Linked DNA regions of Homo sapiens: region 1 is linked to region 2. The links come from fine-mapping of genetic effects on gene expression. Tissue or cell type: whole blood. Region 2 holds a variant in brackets; the other region holds the start of a gene. All regions are shown on one strand. Distances are between the middles of the regions.

Region 1 (2,682 bases), 150 kb before region 2:
TTATTTTTTGAGACAGAGTCTTGCTCTGTTGCCCAGGCTGGAGTGCAGTGGTGTGATCTAAGCTCATTTCAACCTCCGCCTCCCAGGTTCAAGTGATTCTCCTGTTTCAGCTTCTCAAGTAGCTGGGACTACAGGTGCCCGCCACCATGCCCGGCTAATTTTTGTGTTTTTAGTAGAGACAGGGTTTTGCTATGTTGGCTAGGCTGGTCTTGAACTCCTGACCTTATGTGATCGGCCCGCCTCGGCTTCCCAAAGTGCTTGATTACAAGCACGAGCCACCATGCCTGGCCTACGATTATCATGTCTCCAGGCTTCAGTTTCCTTACCTCTGAGGTGAGGATCAATAACCTGGTTATTTCTAAGTGATGCTTAAAGAGGTTGAGAAGAAGCAAAGGCGCTCTGCACACAGGTGAGGTCAACAGCTGTTAGTGATGGAGACTGGCGCCGTCTGGGTCATCAGTGCTCCGGAATCAGGCTGCTCACGGGTTTGAATCTCACTTCCACTTTCACTCCTTATTAACTGTGTGACCTCGGGCAAGTCACTTCGCCTTTCTGAACCTCAGTTTCCCCATCTGTAAAAGGTAGGTGAATAACAGTATTCACCTCCTTCTGTGTGACTCAGCTTTGGAGTCAGCGGACCGGGTTCAAATCCCAGCCCTGCAAGTGATTAGCCAGGTGACCCTGGGCAGAGGGAATCACTCAACCTCTCTGCACCTGGGTTTCTTCCTTCATGAACGTGGAGACTTTACAGGATGAAATGAGGGCACAGTTAAGGCGCCCGGTACACTCCAGGCAGGTAGGGGGCTCCGTTCACGTTATTTTCCCCTGGTGACGGATACTGTCCTTAAACAGCATTTGAAAAGTGGTCGCAGGGTGTGTGGCCCCAAAGATCCCAGGCGCTTCCGGAAGGCGAGCCAACGCTCCCCAGGCCCGTCCGCGAGCGGGTGGGCCTAAGCCTTGGAGGATCTGGGGTGGGGGTGGCGCGGGGTCCAGGCCCGGGGCGCCGAGAGGTGGCTGGTCCGGCTGCCCACGCCGAGACGCGCGAGGTGAGCGGGCGCCGGGGCGGGGCGGGGTGGGGCGGGGCCGCCGCATCCCCGTGACGCGCGGGCCAACCAGGCGGCGTTGCGGCCCCGGCCCCGGCTCCCTGCGCCGCCGCCGCCGCCGCCGCCAGCGCTAGCGCCAGCAGCCGGGCCCGATCACCCGCCGCCCGGTGCCCGCCGCCGCCCGCGCCAGCAACCGGGCCCGATCACCCGCCGCCCGGTGCCCGCCGCCGCCCGCGCCACCGGCATGGCGCTCCGGGGCTTCTGCAGCGCCGATGGCTCCGACCCGCTCTGGGTACGTGCCGGGGGCCGCGTGAGGCCGGCGGGACGGAGGGAGGCCGGCGGGGAGGGAAAGCACCGGGCCCGCAGCCGCCCGGGGCACCCCGCTCCCCGCTCTGCTGCCGGCCTCGGGGGCCCGGGACCCTCACGTCGCCCGCGGCCCAGCCCCTTTCGGGGGTGCAAGGCATGGGGGAAACTTGGGTGACTCAGTTCCTGCGGAGCAGAGCGTGGGGGGCCGCGTGCCCAGCCCTGGGGTTTTGGAGGGTCGGGTCGGGTCAGAGCCGCCGTGAGGAGGCCTTCCTGTTTTGGGGTTCCCGTCTGTAAAAACAACCTTCCAGGGAAGGGGACGCTAGAGATGGGGGGCGGGAAGAGGGGTGTCTCTCTGCTTCTGTTTTCCCATCTTTTTTGTGGTTAGGGTCCCCCCTTTTCACGAAAAATACTCCGTGACCAACGGGGTGAGCTGGGGAGGGGCTTAGATTGTAGAAAGGGACTTTCATTGTCTCCCCAAAGTTGTCGTACAAGCCACATTACTCTTCTGTGGTTACCTAGCTTTGTTTTTTTTGTTCTTTCTACTTAGATACTGCGGGGGAAGTTTGGGGGAACCAGGGAAGAAGGGGGATGTCCACCCTTGATGTGCCCTACCTGACCCTCGGCTCGGGGCAGACTTGGGGTGCAGCTGAGGACGCCCAGGACCCTGGTAGCTGTGGTCCTGCCCTCCCTTCCCTGCAACACGTGGAGCTCCTCTCTGGGGATGCCCCTTAGATTTAACCCCGGCAAGTTTTCTTCTGTAACGTGGCCTGCGGAGCCTGACTGGGTGTCTGGAGTCCACTTGCTGTGGTTTAAGCCCCAGTCTTTTGGGCTTCAGCTTCTCCGTAATGCGATTTGCCTCTTTGTTCCAGGAAGGCAGGCACTTCTGTCTCGTGCTGTCTTGATTGTTGGTGAACGCAGTAGGCAAATCTGGACACGACTGTTTCTCTCTCCTCTTTTGTTTAGGAATCAGGAGAAACAGCCTTGGTTCTTAGGAGCTGGTGATCAGCTTCCAAAAATACTTTCTTGTCCTGTTTTGCCGGCCTTTCCTCGAGGGTTGCATTTGGAGTGTTGAAAAGTCATCCTCCAGGGCCCCATTGGAGGGTTTGGTTTTGTTTGTTTGTTTTTTTTAGTAGGGTATCATTGTGTTTAATAACCTACCACACTTTGATATATCTCCCATTTTAAGCCAGTGGGGTTGGAGAGTAACCCCAGGGGTGGAAATAGAACACAGACTTTGCCTTGAGGGTCTGGGGGTGATTGGAGCCTCTTTGCAGATGGACTTTCTTTAGCAGGGGAAAACCTGTGGCTTCCTTGTTGCCAGGTGTAGTAACAG
Region 2 (2,682 bases):
GTCACGGGCGTCAGCGGTCCAGGGAAGGAAGCAAAGCAAATGGAGAATGGCATGCTGGTGACGGACAGTGCAGGGAAGCAACTGCAGAGGTAAGGGCGGGGAGGAAGGCCCCAACCTAAGGACCCTGCCCTGCCAGTGGGAGGACAAGAGGAGGAACAAAAAAAGGCCTCAGCCCCCTGAGGTCCTGGAAGGCCTGGGCTTTTACCTTCCCTCCCAAATCCTCCAAGGACCTTGCTTTTCAGAGTACAGAGGCCCAAAGAAGGAATGTGGCACTCTTTTTGCCAGGTGGCACAACTCACACAGGCCTCATGATTTAACCAGCTGTCCACGCTTCTGACACTCGGGCTCCCTACATGGTGTGGGTCTTTGCTCAGGTCTCTTGGCGGGGCCTGGAAGGTTCAGGCTTTGTGAAGCAGCATTTGATTTAAAACTGTCTCAAGGCCAGGTGTGGTGGCTCCTGCTTGTAATCTCAGCACTTTGGGAGGTTGAGGCAGGAGGATCGCTTGAGGCCAGGAGTTTGAGACCACAGTGGGTAACATAGCAAGACCTCATCTCTACAAAAAAGGAAGTATGCTCGTGTTTGATTATAGAGGGCTTCCTTAGATCCCTGGGGATTTATAGCGTATGCAGTATATTAACCATCCTAGCTTTTAAAAAACTGGCTAAGTCGGCCAGGCAGGGTGGCTCATGCCTATAATCCCAGCACTTCGGGAGGCTGAGGCGGGCGGATCACCTGAGGACAGGAGTTGAAGACCAGCCTGGCCAACATGATGAAACCCTGTCTCTACTAAAGATACAAAAATTAGCCAGGCATGGTGGCAGGCGCCTGTAGTCCCAGCTACTCGGGAGGCTGAGGCACGAGAATCGCTTGAACCCAGGAGGTGGAGGTTGCAGTGAGCCGAGATTGCGCCATGGCACTCCAGCCTGGGTGACAGAGCGAGACTCCATCTCAAAAAACAAAAACAAAACAAAACAGCAGCAGCAGCAGAAAACAGTAAAACAACAACAAAAATTGACAAAGTCGGAGCCTAAACGTATCAGACCGCGGAGATCTGAGAAAGGATCCCGGACCTGCAGTTGCTACAGGGGTCAGGAGAGAGCAAAGACCATGCGGCATAGCACGGTGCCTGGAACAGACAAACACTTCGTAGATGTCGCTTTTGCCATGGTTATCATCCGGACATGGTTATGGTCCGGAATTGGTGGGTCTTGGTCTCACTGACTTCAAGAATGAAGCCGCAGACCCTCACGGTGAGTGTTACAGTTCTTAAAGGT[G/A]GCACGTCTGGGGTTTGTTCCTTCTGCTGTTCGGATGTGTTCGGAGTTTCTTCCTTCTGGTGGGTTCGTGGTCTCGCTGGCCTCAGGAGTGAAGCTGCAGACCTTCGCGGTAAGTGTTACAGCTCTTAAGGTGGCGTGTCTGGAGTCGTTCGTTCCTCCCGCTGGGTTTGTGCTCTGGCTGGCTTCAGGAGTGAAGCTGTAGACCTTGATGGTGAGTGTTACAGCTCACAAAGGCAATGTGGACCCAAACACTGAGCAGCAGAAAGATTTATCGCAAAGAGTGAAACAATAAAGCTTCCACAGTTTGGAAGGGTACCCCAGTAGGTGGCCACTGCTGGCTCTGGCAGCCAGCTTTTATTCTCTTATCTGGCCCTACCCACATCCTGCTGATTGGTCCATTTTACAGAGAGCCGATTGGTCTGTTTTTACAGAGTGTTGATTGGTCCGTTTTGACAGGGTGCTGATTGGTGTGTTTACAACCCCTGAGCTAGATACGTAAGTTCCCCACATCCCCACTAGATTAGCTAGATATAGAGTGTTGATTGGTGCATTCACAAACCCTGAGCTAGACACAGGGTGCTGATTGGTGTGTTTACAAACCTTGAGCTAGATACAGAGTGCTGATTGGTGTATTTACAATCCCTTAGCTAGACATAAAGGGCCTCCAAGTCAGCACCAGACTCAGGAGCCCAGCTGGCTTCACCAGGTGGATGCCACACTGGGGCTGCAGGTGGAGCTGCCTGCCAGTCCCGTGCCGTGCGCCCTCACTCCTCAGCCCTTGGGCGGTGGAAGGGACTGGGCGCCATGGAGCAGGGGCGGCACTCGTCCGGGAGGCTCGGGCCGCGCAGGAGCCCATAGCGGGGAGGTGGGGAGGCTCAGGCATGGCAGGCTGCAGGTCCCGAGCCCTGCCCCGCGGGGAGGCAGCTAAAGCCCGGTGAGAAATCAAGTGCAGCAGCTGCTGGCCCAGGTGCTAAGCCCCTCACTACCCGGGCTGGCGGGGCTGCCCGGCAGCTCTGAGTGCGGGGTCCACCGAGCCGACGCCCACCCAGAACTAGCGCTGGCCCGCAAGCGCCCTGTGCAGCTCCGGTTCCCTCCCGTTCCTCTCCCTCCACACCTCCCCGCAAGCTGAGGGAGCCGGCTCCAGCCTTGGCCAGCCCAGAAAGGGGCTCCCACAGTGCAGCGGCGGGCTGAAGGGCTCCTCAAGCGCTGCCAGAGTGGGTGCCAAGGCCGAGGAGGCACAGAGAGCGAGCGAGGGCTGCGAGGGCTGCCAGCACGCTGTCACTTCTCAATCTTACACAGCCTAAATTCTAGTGGGAGACTCCAGACAGTGCATGAGTGTAGAAGGATGTAAGATTTTCTGTCGAGGTGTGTGGATGTGTGAAGTCCTAGGTCATGAAGCAGGAAGCC

What was found. PIP is the estimated chance that this variant, and not a neighbour inherited with it, causes the effect.
Region 1: ABCC1 starts here. The variant in region 2 is fine-mapped to the expression of ABCC1 in whole blood (TOPMed, PIP above 0.99).

The regions. Positions count from the first base shown.
Region 1 is chr16:15,948,465-15,951,146 of GRCh38, forward strand. ABCC1 (ATP binding cassette subfamily C member 1 (ABCC1 blood group)) reads left to right here and starts at 1,152. Exons shown (of 31, transcript NM_004996.4): 1 at 1,152-1,335. The coding sequence starts at 1,288. LOC107984869 (a long non-coding RNA gene) reads right to left here and starts at 707. Exons shown (of 3, transcript XR_001752339.2): 1 at 327-707.
Region 2 is chr16:16,102,629-16,105,310 of GRCh38, forward strand. It overlaps ABCC1 (ATP binding cassette subfamily C member 1 (ABCC1 blood group)), which reads left to right. Exons shown (of 31, transcript NM_004996.4): 20 at 1-89. Among named protein-coding and RNA genes, the nearest start is that of ABCC6, 120 kb to the right of the region's middle. The variant G/A (reference allele first, on the strand shown) is at 1,276.